3 linked regions of the Homo sapiens genome follow. The protein of the gene in region 1 purifies or fractionates together with the protein of each later gene. This does not show direct contact. Each region holds a gene or a part of one and is shown on either strand. Other genes may lie near its edges.

Evidence for each region. Proteins that work in one complex are often made in the same cells at the same time.
Region 2: the proteins of UTRN (region 1) and MARK1 purify together in Homo sapiens (affinity purification with mass spectrometry; 2 studies listed by BioGRID and IntAct, with this or other methods). This does not show direct contact.
Region 3: the proteins of UTRN (region 1) and PLEKHA2 purify together in Homo sapiens (affinity purification with mass spectrometry; 2 studies listed by BioGRID and IntAct, with this or other methods). This does not show direct contact.

The regions. Positions count from the first base shown.
Region 1 is NC_000006.12:144,848,325-144,853,557, reverse strand, and holds the end of UTRN (utrophin), read right to left. Parts: intron 2,570-5,233; coding exon 2,561-2,569; 3' UTR 524-2,560; downstream 1-523.
Region 2 is NC_000001.11:220,524,187-220,531,142, reverse strand, and holds the start of MARK1 (serine/threonine-protein kinase MARK1), read right to left. Parts: upstream 3,008-6,956; 5' UTR 2,321-3,007; coding exon 2,270-2,320; intron 1-2,269. UniProt on the Homo sapiens protein: Serine/threonine-protein kinase. Involved in cell polarity and microtubule dynamics regulation. Phosphorylates DCX, MAP2 and MAP4. Phosphorylates the microtubule-associated protein MAPT/TAU.
Region 3 is NC_000008.11:38,939,320-38,946,352, reverse strand, and holds part of PLEKHA2 (pleckstrin homology domain-containing family A member 2), read right to left. Parts: intron 2,565-7,033; coding exon 2,516-2,564; intron 230-2,515; coding exon 132-229; intron 1-131. UniProt on the Homo sapiens protein: Binds specifically to phosphatidylinositol 3,4-diphosphate (PtdIns3,4P2), but not to other phosphoinositides. May recruit other proteins to the plasma membrane.

The DNA of each region.
Region 1 (5,233 bases):
TTTAACAAATTATATTTTAGATGATTTTTCTAGTTCATAGACAGCTTTTAATTTTAGAATAAAGCAACATGATTCTCAACATTGTTTCCCACTGAATGGCTTCAGAAATTGATTAAACCTACTAGAGTGGTTAAAATCCAGTGTACGGATAAAAAGCATACAGTATTTGAGAGCATGAAACTAAAAGTACATTTGAAAGGAACTTAATGTCAACAGCATCTAGTTATTAAAACACTCAACAGGTTTTATGTACACATTTTTACATCCAATATTACTTTTCTCTATCAATAAACCTTCTATCTGGAAAATAAATTGAGAATCATATAATTATATGTATGTGTAAGAGATGGGGAGAGAGAGAGAATGAGAGCAACAGGAGACTGTATTAGTGTGTATGAGAGAAACTGCAGGAAAAAATGTAGATGTATCAGGACACAGGCTATCTCTATATCTTGTTTTCATAAATGTGCATTCAAAACTCACATTCTATCAGTGAATCCAGCTGAAGAATATCAAAGTCATCTTGTGTTAAAATTACTTTTATTCAGGATGAAAAATACAATATGTAACCAGATTAGATGATAGTCTGTGATTAGTTCTTTACCACATATTTCAAAAGAACTACATACTTACTTCCCATTGTTACTGCAATATATTTCTTTTTATTTATTATTACTTAGAAGGTTACAATGTAGTGTTTTACGTAGCTTTTCTTTAATAGCAGATAGAGGACATTTTGCATACAAATACAGGCAGAAAAAAAATTAACACATGACTTTTTAAAGTAAGAACAAGGAAGACACCAAATCTACAACTTGGAGTTGAGAGCTCAGGGAATTGTTTTTTCTTTAAATAGGTGCTTTCTTGGGTATGACATGGCCTGATAAAAGCTCTAGACTTTGCAGACTGCAGCAGCATAAAGCAGTTTCCAATGCAATGGATGAAGATGGATCTGAGGTAGAAAGGTGGTCATGGCTTTCCTTTTTATATAAAACAATTTTCTTCTTTTCAAAATATCTCTGCTGCAAATAGACACCCTTGCCCCCCAACCCACCCAACCTATTCTAAAATAATAGCAATTTCTAACTTTAAGCCTCCTTCTGGCCAGATCCCAGCTAAAGAGAACCCAAAGTTAAAATGTCTTTATGTTTTTATGTCTTTAGGTTTGAATCAAAACATATTATTTTCACCTTTTTTTGGTTCCTCTACATTTGCTAATTAAGTAACATGTTTAAACTGAATCAATTAAATGTTAAATCAGAAGCTAAACCAAAATACATAATTGAATGCACTCAAAAAGATGTAGGTGGAGGTACCATCACCTAAGCATTAATTTCATTCTTCTGTAGAAGCAGTGACATAGACTTTTGATAAACATTCTTTCCAAATATATTGATCAAGTGAAGGGTATAAAAACATCTGATCTTTCACCCGAAAGGTAAAATAAGCCGTGCACTAAATGTGTGTCTGCTTTCAACAAGAAAACAACTAGGAGTTTCAAGAACTATTAAGGACTTGAAAATACAAAACAACAATAAAATTCTCTTTGAAGGGAACCAAAGACAATGATGTGTTCTGGTATCACAATAGGTAAAGGTCTGCTGTGCATGTAATGATGAAAATCAAGACATGGGAACTAGGAAAGGTTGTACTAAATTTTGTTTCTGTGTCAAAATGAAAATATGCTCAAGTGGGCAACCTTTGGTAATATGATCTTTGAGATTATTATAATGTAGTCTTCTTTATCAAATAGATTAAGACATAAAATAAATAATTAATTCCTACTTATATAAAAAGGGAATAAAATGCAGGAAAAATATCCCAAAAGAAATGCCATTTAGGCTTATAGGATTTTTATTACGGTTATCCAAGTGGTCAGCAAAGAAGTAAGTGGGCAACGTCAAATAAAGTTAAACGGCATACACAGGGCTGTAGCTTAAACCATATGTGTGTATATATAAGATATTTGATTGAAATTTATGAATTTATTAATGTGGCCAAATCACGGAAACAAATACATGGATCTATTTGGGATCTAGTTGGTTATATGGCTGATAAACATATGGCTGATAAATTATAAATAACCAAAACATTGTGGTAAAAGAGTCAAAGAAAAAATGAAGTAATTGTGCAAGGTTAATATGAACAGCAGAAGGAATGTAAAAATGTAAAGTGGTCTTCTAATTCTTATGTAAGCTTTGTCATAGTTATTAAAAAGACGGTATCATATTAGAAAGCCCCCACCCACTTTCCCAATGCTGTATACATTATACAAATCCGTGACAAATGTATTACCATTTCCAAATACCTCTCTGTTCATTAATTTACACTTGCATAGAAAGGGAAGAAGAAAACAATAATATATGGTTATTATAAAAACAAAATATCCATTTCTCTTTGGATAGTCAGTGTTTTACTCTTTCAGTAGAACACACAGTCAGCACTCAACATCGTGGGCCAAGGAGCCATGGAGCTTCTGATTTAATGGAACTTGGAATTGGCATTTGCTGAAAAGGGCAACACTGTACGTCAGGAAACATTGGTTGGCCGGATGAATACTTCACATTGCCTATGGGAAGGGAAAATAGCACTGTCAGAAATTTGCACAAAACATTACAGGAAGCAGAGATCTGTCAATTCTTCAAGAAAATAAAAGTGCTTCTTTCAAGAGTCTTAACTCTACTGTGACTTTTGCTTCCTGCAATGAGGTCCCTCCCTCTCATGCTGAAGTTACCTAGTCTGCTTTCTATCACTGCAGCTGATTTAGAGGGAAGTCTGAAAGTCTTTTCTCTTGGCCAGGCTGGAAGCAAAGTTAAAATGGAGAGGACTTCATTTCTTTCTGCTGAAGGTACCAATGGTGAGCGAATGAGGCTGGTGAAAATATCCCATGTCTTCCTGGGGGACTGTGGGAGGTCATCTGTAGAGGGGGTACCCTAACAATGCCAACCATCTTGATCCCAAGCTGGAGTCCAGAGAAGAGGAAGGCAAGGCAGGAATCATAACCCAAGGGTGTTTAGTGGTGCCAGTTAAAGTTAAATGTCCCAGGTCAGAGACAATATAAATCCAGGCCACACTCATGGAAGTGGTATCAACCTTTTGAAGGGAAGGTCAAACATTTGGTCTTCTAAAAGGATTTTGAAATTAGAAAAAAATAAAAAAAAAGTGCTAAAATGAAATCATCCAAACTGGTCCATGCCTCATAAATCATAAAAGGCCTTTCTGGACCCTCAGGAAAGATATTCCATCTGTCTTTACACCTTATTTTATGGGGGACTTTATCCTGCTCCCTGGAAGCATGTTCCTAATGAAGCCACTGGAAAAACTGCCCACGGAGCCCCTCCTTTTCCCAGGTATGCTGAAAGCAGCAAACTCATTTGACTCTGGCCTAGAGCCCATTCTCCATGACTATTCAAATTTGGATTCTTCAGACACTTGCTTCTCCATTTTGAACATTTGATTGCCATGTTAGAGGGAGCAAAAATTCAGCAAACACTGATGGGTTCCAGGCATTGTACTGAGGGGAGGCCCTCCTGTGAAGCAGGTGTGGAAGATATCTCAGCCAGGCAGCCTCATTCAATTGTAATATGAGGTAAGTGCCGGCCACAGTAAATTCAAAGAAGTGGTTTGAGGACAGAGAAGGGGAGAGATTAACCCCATATGAGAAAGGAACATTTTGTTACATATTAATATTGATAACTGAAACTCTGGCGCTGATTCATGTTAAATATAAAGCCAAGAGGATTTTTGAATTGTGCCTATATACTCCATTATCCTTGAGAATGAGATGTGTCTATTAATTGGACACACAATACTGCTCATTTTAGGTGTCAGAATTCTAAAAATTTAAGATCATGCTATGTAAATATTAGCCCAACCCTCCAGGTGAAAATATATACTTTTCATGAATTTCCATTCGACCCAAGACATGAAAAAATGAAGAAAAGAGAAGAGCAGGAAAAAACACATGGAAAGGGAAGGAAGAAAATGGGAAAGGGGCCTCTTGTATTGAGTTACATGTTTGCTCCATCCACTAAGTTGCTGTACAACTGGGAACCATTTAGCTCTTTGTAAACTCAATTTCTAAAATCTAGAAACAGAGTAGGAGGAGAAGGCCTCCTCAGATAATTTTCTGCTTTAAATTCTGAGCACTTGTATTATATCTGAGGATTTTAAAAGATTCTCTCTTCCCTCCTTGCCTTTGTCACTCACAGCCTCATTCCACCTGGGGACCATCAGGACTAACCTCTTTGTACCCTTTATCCCTAATTTTAATGGGCCACCCTAAAAAGCTCTAGACTCCTGGTTGCCCTTCCATCACCTGTATTCTAGTCATATAGAGATCTGCATACCCCTTTTTGTGACCCTATGCCTCACTCTTCCTAGCTCTTGAAACCTGTCCTATAGGTCATGTGGCCTGTGATCCGCAAAACCCATGTTCCCAAACCCTTCTCTGAATGCTGCCTGCATCTACTTGCTCTAATCAATATCTGCATCTACCTGAAGACACAGCTTCCCTCATAACCCTCTCACACAGCACTTCCCCTCCCCATTCTCCCCCATTCCTCATACACTGCATGAGTCTTCCTTGGTCCTCATTGGGGCCTCTGGGGTATCTTCTTTCTCCTCTCCCTAAAAACACCCAGCTTTGAATCTCATATCATCAGACTATATGACTCCATTATGCAGTCATCTACTGACTCCGTAGGTCATGTTCCTTCACTTCTTGAAGTAAAAAATGGCTCAAAGTCCCCTACTCTAAAGCCATTTTTAAATGTTAGTGATTTCAACACCCATGGAGATGATTCTTCCAGCACTCTGGCTTCTTGGTTCTTTAGGCTCTTTTCCTCCAATGGTCCTGTCCTCCAACCTTCTTAGCCATTCACACAAAGGTCCAAATATGGACCATTACCAATACTTGCAACCCCTCTAATTTCAGTATCATTCAACCTAGCTTCTGACAACCACCTCTACCTCCACAGCTTACTTCCCCTACAACTGCAAATTTATCCATCCTTTGACAATAGGATCCATTGATCCTCCCATCTTTATTTCTGTCTCCCACACTGGACATTTCCTCATTCCTTTCACTACTGAGCTTAAGCATCTGGTTCAATCATTATAATCACTTCTTTGCCTCTTCCCTTGAATCACTGTACTCACTTTGTCAAACCCCAACTTCAACTTTTTAAATGCCAATACTCAGCCCATTCTGGTGCCTGTGCTCATGAACGTG
Region 2 (6,956 bases), on another chromosome or scaffold:
GGTGATTTCGTAGCCATCAGTGGTGGCCTCTTTGATAAACACCTATAACACCTATAAACCAATTTAGCCCTATTTACACAATGTCTTCTACCATACATTACTTGTTTGGGATTATTATCTCTTCTGTAAGCTCCTTGCAGGGAGAGACTTTATCTTAAACACTACTTCTATATCCCCTTCCCAACCCTTTACCTAAAAAATGAACATGCTGAGTGCATACTTATTAATTGACAGGTGTCATATAATAGATATTTTCCACAGCAATTAGGAGAAAATAAGGTGTGGGTAAAGTAAGCTAAATGGAGATATCATTATGTACAACACAATAAGGCACAAGACCATAAAAGTGACTTTGAAATAACATGTTCAGAAACAGCAAATCAGTTTATACAGCATAATCATTTTCAGAAGGTACTCACAACAAAATTTATCATACTATTATTGCTTAGCTTTAAAATCCTTTTTTGTGTGTTCTTACATGAGAAGCTGCATTTTGTGCTATTCCTTAATGCATATTTCTATAATTATATCTCATGTCTTTATGAAGTACCTTATTCATACAAGTATGAGAAAAGCTATACTATTCAAAATCTAAAAGAAAATAAAAACAATGTATTTTTCCACTCCTCCTGGGTTAACACATACAGTAATTTGCTAATAAAAACAAAGGTTATCATCTGTCATACTTTTCATTCACACTCTTGAATGACAGGCATTTTTTTAATGTTCCTGTTAGAAAAATTCTGTGCCAACTCGGCTTTAAAACCAACTCAAACCAAAATATCCATCTTTTTCTCTGAACTTGTTCAATCTCTCAATCAAAATTATGTATCAATTATATTTTCTAAAATAGTTATGATGCAAATGAAGTTCTAATTTATGATAGCAGCAGCCTTACACTATCTTTCCCATTTAAATGCACGGCGCTAGGGAAGACAAAAGCATACTCTGAAACATCTTCACAGGTCCTCTAACAATGGTCTCTTAGTAGAATTTCTTCTCTCTTTGTATAGTTATATTAAATTTCTGTGCTTCCCTCCTAAGATGAAATCATCTGTTTATACCCCTCCAACAACTCAGAAGTGAGCTTGTATCCTTTCTCTCATGCCTTTTGTCTAAGAACACCAAAGCGCTTCGTTATTTTATTTTACCAACCCCATGAAGTCAGTGGTATATCAAAAGCTGGACGGCTGATGAGATAACTAGACAGAGAGCTCTGGACAGCTGACCAAAACTTAGTACCCCTCTAGGTCCTTAAAATCAGTCGGAAAATCAGCCAAGCCCTATTTACAGGTCTTGAGTGTTTTAAACAAAAACAAAAACAAGAAAACCTTCCCACAAAGGAACTTGCACACACACACACAACTGTACTTTTCAGAAGGTGGAAATACAAGGGATCTTGTTCTTTTCGTTTTTCAAGAGTTTAAAAGCCCGGCACATCTGCATCTTGATAACAGCTCCAGAGGGCAATCTGATCAAAGACACAGAAAATCCCTCCTTTAAAGATGTGCACCTTGTGACACTCCAAGGAGGAGAGATATTTAAAGTAAAACCTGCCCTGCATCATTATCACTGACTTAAGGAAGAGATTAAAAAGCCCTTGGCTTCATGTGGCTTTTCAACATTTTGCTGTAACCCCAGGGCCATAGATGCTGTTCGTGAAATTCTTCTACTCATCCCTACTAAGAGTGTCACAGCAGTATAAACTCATACACAAACACGCACACATCTCCACTTCCATTCCCATCCTTCTCGCTTTGGTGCCCATGACCCAAAATGTGGACACAATGTTACAAAAAGCAAAGTCATGGGGCAATGCGGGGGGAGGAGGGGAGAGTGCAAAGGATTGAAAGATCCAGAAAAGCAAGAGTGTGAGAGGTAGCCGGCTCGTCTGCTATTGTAAAGCAAGCATTCATTCGGGTGGGGGCACAGAATGCAGAGGTAGAAATAAAGCAATCCTGACTGCCCACTCTGCCATCCCATTCTGCTTCTCTGCCCTCCATCACCCCATCCGCCCCTGGAGGACCACCTCCGAGCGAGAGGGCGCCACTTACGGTTCCCTACCCTCACCCTTGAGGGGAAACAAGCGAAATGGGGTTGGAATGAAGAATAGGGCTGAGCAGTGGGTGAGGGTCACGCCGGGCTCCAGGTGGAGACCCTGCCGCGGGTGGCCGCGCCGAGGCACGGGGGACGGCCCAAGCGCGGGTGAAGTGGGGATCAGAGGAGGGTCTCGCCCCCACTGCTCCCGAGGGAGGCTCCGGTTACTCACATTTTCCGTGTCCCGCTCGTTCACCGTCGGCAATGGCGTCCGGGCCGACATTTTGTGCGGGCAGCGGGGTCTGGCCGGGGTCTCGCCGGCCGGGCTGTGGTGCGGGCCCCGGGGGGCGACAGGAAAGGGGTGCGGACGCGAGCACAAGGCCGGGGCGAGCGGCTCCCGCAGGCCGCGGGGCGGTGCAACAAGCGGCCCCGGCGGGGGAAAGAGGGAAGAGGACGCGGAGGAAGAGGAGGGGGAGCCGCTTCCCGCGGCGGCGCCGCCGGGGTATGCGGACAGTAACGAGGGAGGGCTTCGGGCGAGGCGGTTGCCCGGCGCTGGCGGGGCGGCGAGGCTGGCAGGATGAGGCGTGGAAGGGGAGCCGGGAGGCGGTGGCGAGCCCCGCTAGGCTCTCCGGACCATGGGTGAAGGTGAAGCCGGTGCCTCAAATCACTGCCTGGCTCGTCCTGGCGAGCGCCTGGGCGTCAGGAACCGCGGCCCTGACAGCGTCACCCGCGCCGCGCCCCGTTCTCCGCCTCAGGTGTACGGCGCCGCCCGACCCAGCCGCATCCACGCGCCCGGGGCCCAGCGGCGGCGGCGCCCGATCCCCCGGCGCGAATGTCTCGGCTCGGTCCGCGCGGTCACAGCCACCGCCGCCGCCGCGCCTCAGTCAGGAGGAGCGGCCCGAGCCGGCTGCGCGCGGAGCAGCGGGCGCGGCACGCAGCGCCCAGAGGCACTTGGCGGCCGCCGCCGGGTGGGCGGGCGCCAGCCGAGGGGGCCTCTCCATTCATTCCCTCATTAGGGATGCGGGGCCGCCTCCTCCTCCTCCTCCTCCTCCTTTTTCTCCTCCTCCTCCTCCCGCGCTCTCTTGCCCGCCTGTCCCTGTGTTTATTTTTGTTTCGTGCCCCACCCGCAGAGTTTACGGTCGTCTAAGAGCCTCTGGTGGTTTTATTTTTATTCGTGTTTGGTTTTTGCCGGGTTGAGGGTGAGAGAGAGCTGATGTGAATCAGTGGCTTTTTTTTTTCTTTTTCTTTCTTTCTGTTTTTGTTTGTTTGTTTGTTTGTTTGTCCGTTTCATTGGAGAAGAATTGGATTCAATCCTACCCTGGATCCTACCCCTCCTTTTCTCCTACCTCGGGACTTTTACCATTCTTAAATTCTACTCCTCCTCCCCCGTTTCCACGCTTTCTCAATCCCTATCCTCGCCTGAGCCCTCTGTCAGTCTCCTTCTCTAGGGAGCCGTTAGGTTCAGGGTCACCCTCAGAGTTTGGCAAAAAGCACAGAAGCCCCTAGAAGCGCCAGCAGCCTAGGGAGGCGGCTGGAGACTCAGTACAAGTGGGTCTCAGCCCCCGACGGCGCGGCCTCTTCGGGAATGGGGCCGGCGGAAGACGTCTCGCTCTGGGCGCCCTGCAGCACCCTCGGAGTGGGTGAGACCCGCGAGTCACAACATCTACACTGGCTGATCGTCACTTCCTGGGACACAAGGAAGTGTCACTTAGGCGAGCCTGTTTAGGGAGGATGGAGAGCTGTGTCTGATTTGGGCCCTGTCCTCCCTCTTCCAGGTGGCTTCCTCACACTTCCACCCACCTGCCTCAAGACATCCTGTAGGCACCCGCGTCTGTAGTGCATTGTCCAGGACCCATTCGCCTTTTATAAGCAAGGCTGCATTTTTTTTTAATCTCATTTGAGAGCTTACATTTTGCACATTCAGCCTGTAGAACGAAAACCTTATCGTCTCTCTATTCTTCTTTGCAACATTTCTTTTTCACTTCCTTTCATGGATGGGCAGGAAGACAAAAGGAATGAAAGATAGGAGCGGATACATTGATTTTCTGAGCTGCTTCAGTATGCCTCCAGTGGAATTCTTATAATGGTGGGAAATTTCTCGTCTCTTCTGAATTTCCTCCATTTGAAAGAAGAATCCCTGAACCAGATGGTTTTTATCCTGACTCATTAAAGGTTGTTTCTGAAAAGTTAACACTTGACCCTTGAAGCATGGGTCCAAAAGACCTGAAAATAGCAAACACAAAAATCCTTTGAGGAAAGAAGCAATTCTCACCCAGTCTATATTCACTTCTAGAACACCATCTGTGTACTTATTTCTTTAGCATTTTCTCTTGTAACCACTTACCAATTTCACAAAGCAAATGAAAAAAAAAAAAAAAACAAGATCCCTTTGGTGGTCATCACCACTTCTCAAACAGAATTTAGGCAGCGGAACTGCAATGCTGCCTCCTGAACTATGATGTGTTACTGAGAATGTCAAGCATTTACGTGCCCTCTGCAGAAAATCCTGAATCACCAAGATACATTGAAGTTGCAAGGGCATAATCCTGTATTTTTCTGGTTATTTTCTGGTTAACTATTGCGACGGCTGCCTGTAGGGGCTGCCATCACAGTGTCAGCGGCATCACTGACTGCTGCAGCCACACAAGGGTACCTAGTGTTGCAATAGTACCTGAGTTAACCTAGCAATAAACAAGTAGCTGTGAAAAGGCGTTCAGCCCCATTGGAATATGAATCATTCCTTCAGCTGGTAGTATGTATTTTGCTCTTTAAAGTATACTCACATATTTTTCTATCTTTATAATCGTGGTGACCCTGACAGGCATATTTATTTCCATTTTACAAAATTCCACTAAGTTAACTTGTTCAAGATCACAGATGCACCAGGTTAATAAGATACAGAAGAAGATAACTGAAATATGTGGTGCTGTTCAATCTTGCACCAGTCACAAAAACCATAGGTTCACCCCATAAGATATAATGGCTAATTCGAGACAGAGCTTAAAGGAGAGCCCCAGATTCTGGCACAGTGGCTTCCACAGATTTTAAAGTGTCTGTTAAAAGCCATGGACAAATCCCTTAGCTATATTTGCTACACAATGCTCACTATTTCACATATTGAAATTTACGGAATATCACATAATAATAGGAAGGGATATTTATTGTTTAAGTCAATCCCCAAGAACACTTCTAACAGTGAAACTACATTCAAAGAGAGTCATTACTAGGTAGCTCGAATCCATAATTCTAGCTAGCCAAATTGTTTTTTTGGATAGAACAATTCTATCCAAAAGAAAATGCCATTCAAATAATCCTTATTAATACCTAACAATTTTAAGCTTGGTATGTAGTGAAAACTAAGTGAAAATGCACTTTGCCCAGGTTAAAAAAAAAGTCACTATGTTTTTCAAAAGGAAATACTGTCTGTCCCTATATGAGCTCTTCTCCCCTTAAAATGGCATTAGTAGATCCTTAAACATGGGAGAGGAAAAAAAAATGACATGAGGCATTATTGTGATGGAGTCAATACTGTTTAACCCTAGTCCTTAGAAATGAAAATGCTCATGAGCAAAATTTTTTTGTGTTACTATATATAGCTTCTGTGTCTGTGACTATGGAGAAATGACAAAGGGAATATTTTAAGGCTTTGAGTAATTTTTTTTTGGGTTATTAACCAAATGTGGCATGTTCAATTCACAGGTTCCTAACTTAATGTGTTAGGGTAATGAAAGTTTTGGAAGAAAATTGAAGTACTGACAAAACAAAAGGGAAATAAAGATCTAAAAGGTGCTAAACCTACAGTGAAAAGTGGGAAAAGAGCATTGCCTACCGTCAGCCCTATGGAGTAGAATTTTTTAGAACTACCGGGTCCAGTACCAGTTACATGTGACTACTGAGCTCTTGACATGTTGCTTGAATTTTTAATTTGACTCAATTTCAAATAATTTACACTTAAAAACCGATTTGATTCAGTGACTGAAAAAATTGTGTTATGTTTGAAAGTATGTTAAGTATATGAATCTACTTTTTCAACTGTAAATTTTCTGAAATCTATATACCGATTAAGTATTTCTCATGGAAATGTATTACCTGAATTGGGATGTGCTATAAATATAAAATGCACACCACATTTTCAAATAGTAGGAAAAAAAAGAGAGTAAGATGTCTCTTTATAAATATTATAACCATTTCATATTGAAATGCCAATATTTTAATATATTAGGTTAAATAAAATATATTATTAAATCATTTTCAACTGTTTCTTTTTTACTTTTTCAAATGCAGATCCTAAAAAATATAAACTTACATATGTGGTTTACATTACATTATCTCTCTGTTGGACAGTACTTCTCCATATGGTCAAAGCTGAGAATAAAAAGGCTTAGTTGCTTAAGAATCAAAGGCCTTGATTATAAGCTATTAATAATTCATTCTGTGGTAGAGTGGCACCCAATAAATGCTTGTTGGGCACCATTCTACCACATGCCATGCTGTGCTGTTCTAGGGGAATATTCTTCACCTAATAGTTAGCGGCAGTCAGTCTTACGCATTCTTTTTAAAGAGCAAAGTGGAAAACATGTTGAATTCATACAAATGAGCATTAACAGATTGCAGTCATTTGTAAACAAAGAATTTATCAAATGTGACAGATTCAGCAGATTAATAGTAAACTCTTAAAACTGCACATGTCTTTATATCATGTGCTTTAGATGTATCCAATGTCTGATAGACTTGGCCAGTCAATAATTATTTGCATACTTTGTTTTAGGTACTACAAGGCTATTTACAATCTTTCATTTAGCCACACAGGAAAACTACAGGATAGACAGTTCGGTAAGGTAACAAAGAGCAGTCTCAGCTAAAGAGAAACAAGGTTAATGTCCATCAGGAAAGAATAATCAGTCCTTGTCACAAATAAA
Region 3 (7,033 bases), on another chromosome or scaffold:
GAGAACTGGGTACAGACCAGGCTCCTGGGAAAGTCCCCGCTGCCATCTCAGTTTTCCCCAACCCCAACAAGGCCATAGCCTGGGAAGAGGCACTTTTACTACCACCAGAAAACAGAAGAAACCAAACTTACGGTGATCTTGCTGGCTTGGTTCAGGGCTTCAACCCAGTCCTTCATATCTTTCTGATCATTGGCTTGAAGGAAATATCTCTGAGACAGGGCATTGATAACTACAAAAGCCACAGAAAAGAAGGGAAGACATTCCTAGGTCAGAATACAAGCAATACAACAAGTCTCCACAAAGCTAAGGTGTTTGAGGGAGTGAGATGAGTGAACTCCACAAAGCAGAACAAGAAATCTCCCATGATGCTAAGTCATTTGCCTGGATATCTAGGAAGCCCCAGGCCACACCTGCTCACTCTCTTTCCCACCTTTAAAAACATCCCATTGGCCACAGGAACAACACCTGACCATGTTAACAGCAGCCTCAGTGTGCTGTTCTGCGGTGATGAGGCTGCTGGTCTGCCGTCAACAAGACACAACTGTGAACCGCATTCTGGCGGTGCTAATACATTTACTGTCATCACGGTATATACAGAATTTTGGACCCATGCTTGGTCTCCTCTGGCACAACTGGTCTGGACTGGGAGAGTTGTCTGTGGTTGGGAAATAGAACAAAGCTTTCCTGAGATCAAATCTGTGACCTTGGCCTCACTCTCAACCTGTTCTTTCCTCTGAGCATTCCATTAGGTCAACAATTTACTTCCACATTCACTATTATTACATATATATATTTTCAGATCTGATAACCACAAAACGTGAGAGTCATTTCTGAGCTTAGCTATGAAATTTGCAAGAAATAGAAGAATGAGCATGCCAAAGAAGTCTGAACAAATCTGAGGTGGGGAGACAGAATCGCTCAAGGGAATACTTTATTCTCTTAGCATAAGCTTGAACTGTAGGAGGTGAGTCTCATGGGGTAGATGCAGAATTCATCCGTTCATTCATTCATTTGACAAATATTTACTGAGCACCTACTATGCGCTAGGAAACATCTTTAAGTGCTGAGGATACCACAGTGACAAGGCAGAGGAATACCCCTGCCTTTGTGAAACTTACATTCAGAACCACCCCAGATAGGCAACAGAAACTATTTGTTAGCATTTGCTCATAGCACTTAGCACAGCTGTGAGAACATAGTAGGAGCCAAGTAACTATTTGATGATGGATTCACTGAATTCACTGACCACTTCCTGACTTGAGGCACCCATGCACGGTGACTCTGCCTCCTACACCATCCCCCAACATGTCACTATTGGGCAACTGAGACCCTTAACAGAATTCTCCTTCCTTTGTCTTATCCCCTTCCTGGCACTGCCATCTGCGTCTCCTCTGAGTCCTCCATCTTTTCTGAGCACAACATTTCTCAGCTCTAAAATAAGGTTCACAGAAACTTATAGTGGACATTTTGCACCTGCCTTGTGGCATCAAGAAAACTGAAATGCATATGGACAATTATTAAAAGAAAAAAATGTTCGAGATGATGGACATTGATATGGTTTGGATCTCTGTCCCCACCCAAATCTGTGTCCCTACCCAAATCTCATGTTCAATTGTAATCCTCAATGTTGGAGGTGGGGCCTGGTGGGAGGTGACTGGATCATGATGGGTCGTGGGGGCGGTTTCTCATGGTTTAACACCATCCCCCATGCTGTTGTGTCATAATAGTGAGTTCTTGTGAAATTTGGTTATTTAAATATGCATAGCACCTCCCCACTCTCTTTCTTGCTTCTCCTCTGGCCCCATAGAGCCTGCAGAACACTGAGCCAATTAAACCTCTTTTTTTTTTCTTTTTTTGAGGTGGAGTAGAGTGCAATGGCCTGAAATCAGCTCACTGCAACCTCCGCCTCCTGGGTTCAAGAGATTCTCCTGCCTTAGCCTCCCGAGTAGCTGGAATTACAGGTACTCACCACCACGCCCAGCTAATTTTTTTGTATTTTTAGTAGAGATGGGGTTTCACTATGTTGGCCAGGCTGGTCTCAAACTCCTGATCTCAGGTGATCTGCCCGCCTCGGCCTCCCAACGTGCTGGGATTATAGGTGTGAGCCACCAGGCCCGGGCAAACCTGTTCTCTTTTTAAATTACCCAGTCTCAGGTATTTCTTTATAGCAGTTCAAGAACAGACTAATATAGATATGCTAATTACTCTATACATTATGTACCCCATGAATATATATAATTATTATTTGTCAACTTAAAAAATAAAACTAAAACCAAAAAAAAAAGAAAGAAAACAGAAATGTTACTAGTCCCTGAACCTCTGTCCTTATGTTATTAACAACCTTTGCAGCAAGACCAGGGAAAACAATATCACTTGACGTCCAGGACCGTCACTGTGATTTAAGTCACTCATACTCACAGGGTATAGTCACATGTGATCACAGGACTGTCTCCATGCAAAAGAGGAAGTTGCCATGTCAATATTAAATGAGTCCCTCCCCTGGCTCAGTACTTACCAAAGCAAAATGGAGTTTTTGGTTTCTGTTTTGGGGTAGCTATGCTCACCTAAATCAAATAAGAAATAAAAGAAACATGAATATGTGTCTTACAATGTTGAAGATTTCTTATTGTGAAATTTCTCATATATAAAGAGTACATTAAACATATGTCTACATTTTTAAAAAATAATAATTAAATGAAAACCCTGTACTCATCATCCAGATTAAGAAACAGGCATTATCAGTCCTATTTCTTAGAAGCCCTGTGTGCCCCTCCCTGACAGAATCCCCACCGTCAGAGATAACCATTATCTTGAGGTCTGTTCATCTTTACAAAAAGACTTATGTTTATTATTTATTTATTTATTTAGATATAGGGTCTCACTCTGTCACCCAGGCTGGAGTACAGTGGTGCAATCATAGCTCACTGCAGCCTCCAACTCCTGGGCTCAAGTGATCCTCCAGTCTCCACCTCCTGGCTAATTTTTTTTAAATGCCCCTATGCCTGGCTAGTTTTTTTTAAAAAAGAAAAATATTTGCAGAAACAGGGTCTTGCTATGTTGCCCAGGCTGGTCTCAAACTCCTGGGCTCAAGCAATCCTCCCGCCTCAGCCTCCCAAAGTGTTAGGATTACAAGTATGAGCCACTGCACCCAGCTCAAAAAGACTTTTAAAAGCCACTAAGTCCTGACGAAAACCTATCCTGGCCTCATTCACACTAGCAAGATTCCCCTCCTCCCCTCCTCTTTCAACCGCCAACCCTCTCCCTAAATCGTTCTCCAAGCTGAAGGCAATATTGCTACAAATGCATGGATTCCAATCAGAACACTCAGAGAGATGAAGCAGCAGGCTGCTCGCTGCCCTCAGACACATGGAACAATTGCCTTTACATCTGCCCTGATGGCCTAACCATGAAAATAAGCACCTTCCAGGTGCCCAGAGAGGGGCTGATGGAATCGGAGAACATTCCTATATATCTCAGGGAAGGGCAAGAAACAGAGGAGGTATTTCTATACCTCCTGTTGCTGTATTTCATCTTGCTCTGGCAATCCTACCCCTGGCATGTACACTCCTGAGTATCTGCATATGTGAACTCTCATCATTCAGGCTCAAACAAAAGAAAAAAGAAAGCAACTCATATTCCACCACATGCCCACAAAGATTAGGGACAATCCTTGATGGAGGCTGAGCCTCCCTGGAGTGAGCCTCCACCACTGAGCCTCTAAAGAGACAGTCACCTTCCCATGGGTCCTAGGCCGGGGACTATTCACATGATGTCACAGTCCTCCCCTGAATACCATTCTCTCCATCCCCCTCCAGCCAAGGGTATTCTTCGACATGTCCTCCACCTAGGGGATCCAGGAGTGGTTCCCACTTTATTTTATTTGTTTGTGGGGTTTTTTTGGGTTTTCTTTCTTTGAGACAGGAAGCTGGAGGATCACTTGAGCCCAGAATGAGACCCCATCTCATTCTGTCACCCAGGCTGGAGTGCAGTGGCGCAATCACAGCTCACTGCAGCCTCGACTTCTCAGACTGAAGTGATCCTTCCACCTCACCCTCCTGAGTAGCTAGACTACAGGTGTGTACCACCACACCCAGCTAATTTTTCCATTTTTTTTTTAGAGATGGGGTCTCGCTATGTTGTCAAGGCTGGTCTCAACCTCCTGGCCTCAAGTGATCCTCCTGCCTCAGCCTCACAAAGTGCTGGGATTATAGGCATGAGCCACCGCAACCGGCTGGCTGCTACTTTAACGGGCAGCGTATCAGAAGCCAGGTGCTAAAGAAAAAGTCCTGAATTGAAATTAAAGTATCTTCCTGGCTGACAGCAGTTAGGGTCTAACAATGACTGACTCACCAGTCTGTCTAGGTTCTTACTCTTGGCTCTAAGTTCTTGCTATACACCTGCCTAGATTCCTTAACCAAAATTAATATTGCCCCAAATAAATGGGAACTGAGGTGGCACCTTATAAAAGATCAAAAGAAGGTCAGGCAGAGACAGAGAGTCTCAAATGACAGGTGTTCCAACTGAATGACCTCCATTTCCTGTTCTATCAAATAAGGGATCATAATATCGTGTTCTCACAGGGTTATCATGAGGGTTAAATATGATAGTGCAGGTAAGACAGTCATTCTTCCACACAGAATCTGCTCAACCCAGGAGGGATTATTTATAGCTTTTGATACCTCATTTCCTTTAAAGCCTCACTCCACACATCAACACAGGCAGTGTCCCACCTGGAACTACGGGCAAAATGCTGAGGGTCCATGAGTTTCTCTGGGCCTGCAAAACTGTATGAAACCTGAAAAAATTGCCTGGCCTCCTACATACAAAGTGAAGATGCTGTATCTGGTGTTAATAAACATTTAATTGAATGCCTACATAACATTATATCAACCTCCCTGACAAGTATTTAAATGCGTACAGGATGTTACGTCAAGTAAACGTCATTAATTTTTCAATGAAACATTAAAAAGTTTTTCATTTGAAAATAATTGGTACCAGGCCGGGCACAGTGGCTCACGCCTGTAATCCCAGTACTTTGGGAGGCCACAGCCGGTGGATCACTTGAGGTAAGGAGTTCGAGACCAGCCTGACTAACATGGTGAAACCCTGTCTCTACTAAAAATACAAAATTAGCCGGGTGTGGTGGCACATGCCTGTAATCCCAGCTACTTGGGAGGCCGAGGCAGGAGAATCGCTTGAACCCGGGAGATGGAGGTTGCAGTGAGCTGAGATCCCGCCATTGCACTCCAGCCTTGGTGACAGAGCGAGACTCTGTCTTTAAAAAAAAAAAAAAAAAAGATACCTTAGATTTTCTTAGCTCACAAGAATCCTTTTGTGCGTGTGCAAGATGATTGCCCAGAAATTAGAGCCAGTTACAAATTGGATGAGTTACTCAGAGCCAAATCATTCCAAAAGTAAAATGATTAAAATCCTTTCAAATATTTTATATATATATATAATAGCCAATTATATTTAATAAGGGATGTACATTTTGAGATGTGAGGTGAAAGCCACAGAGCCTACGAAAAACCTAAAAAAATGATGATTTGAGCAAAGGTAAACCCGCTTATCCCAAGTTCGGACACAGAGGATCCAAATTCAGTTGTGTGTCAACTCACAGTAAGAGGACGCTGGTGGCTCCATAACACAATAGTCCAGGCCCCTAGACATCTTGCTTCCTGGGTTTCTGACCCCCCCCCCCCGCCCCTTCAATCTGGACCACGGCATAGACTTCTGTCCTGCTTACACCTGAGTGTTAATCTGTCAGTCACTCATTTTCTTGCTTTGGCCCTCAGCGTCCACATTCCTGCAGTCCTCTGGTCCATAACTCCTGGTTGTTCTGCCCCTGATCTCTGCATAATCCTGACCACAGCAGAACTGTGTTTGGCCATCCCAGCCCTCAGAACCCACCAATCTCATCCTCCCCTTCTACTTCCAGCTTTATTTATTTATTTGAGACAGAGTCTTGCTCTGTCACCCAGGCTGGAGTGCAATGGCACGATCTTGGCTCACTACAACCTCCGCCCCCCAGGTTCAAGCGATTCTCCTGCCTCAGCCTCCCAAGTTGCTGGAATTACAGGCACGCACCACCACACCTGGCTAATGTTTTATATTTTTAGTAGAGATGGGGTTTCGCCATGTTGGCCAGGCTGGTCTGGAACTCCTGACCTCAGGTGATCCACCCACCTCGGTCTCCCAAAGTGCTGGGATTATAGGCGTGAGCCACCACGCCTGGCCCTTTTTTTTTTTTTTTTTTTTTAAGAGATAGGGTCTCACTCTGTCTCAGGCTGGAGTGTGGAGGTGCAGTCATGGCTTGGTCAGCCTCAAACTCCTGGGCTCCAGCGATCCTCCCAACTCAGCCTCCCAAGTAGCTGGGACTACAGACACTCACCACCATGCTCAGCTAAATTTTATTTTTTAAATTTTTTTTGTAGAGACAGGGTCTCGCTATGTTACTGAAACTGGTCTTGAACTCCTGGCCTCAAGCGATCCTCCCACCTCAGACTCCCAAAGTGCTGGGATTACAGGCATGAGTCACTATGCCCAACCTACTTCCAGCTTTAGAATGACATTGAAAAACTGGGCACTCCAAGACCCTTTCTGGCTTATTAGGAGAACTGCCTTTTCTCTGAAAAACTCCTATTTGTCACTGACTAGAGAGAGCACCACAGGCGGACTGTTTTAATTCTGTTTGGATAACAAATGCTCGTTTTGACCACAACTGATTAGCCAGCCTGTGCTGTGAGAATGCTACCCATGTGCTTATTATGGGAACTGGAGCCTTCAAAGAGACGGTCTGGCTTTGGGTTTGTTTGTTTGCTTTCCTCTGTTTATCCAGTTTTGGTCAGGAGGCATGTGAGAGTGCACGTGTGAGTGCATGCGTGTACAACCATCATTGGCCTCATGCCTAATGGCTTACCATGGAAGGGCGATTCGGCAAACCAACTCATTGCTGAATTAACAGGATCGGTTCTGGTTCTGCCCTGATTGGCTCACTGCAAGGGTAAGACCCTCAATGTCTTTGATCAGCTTT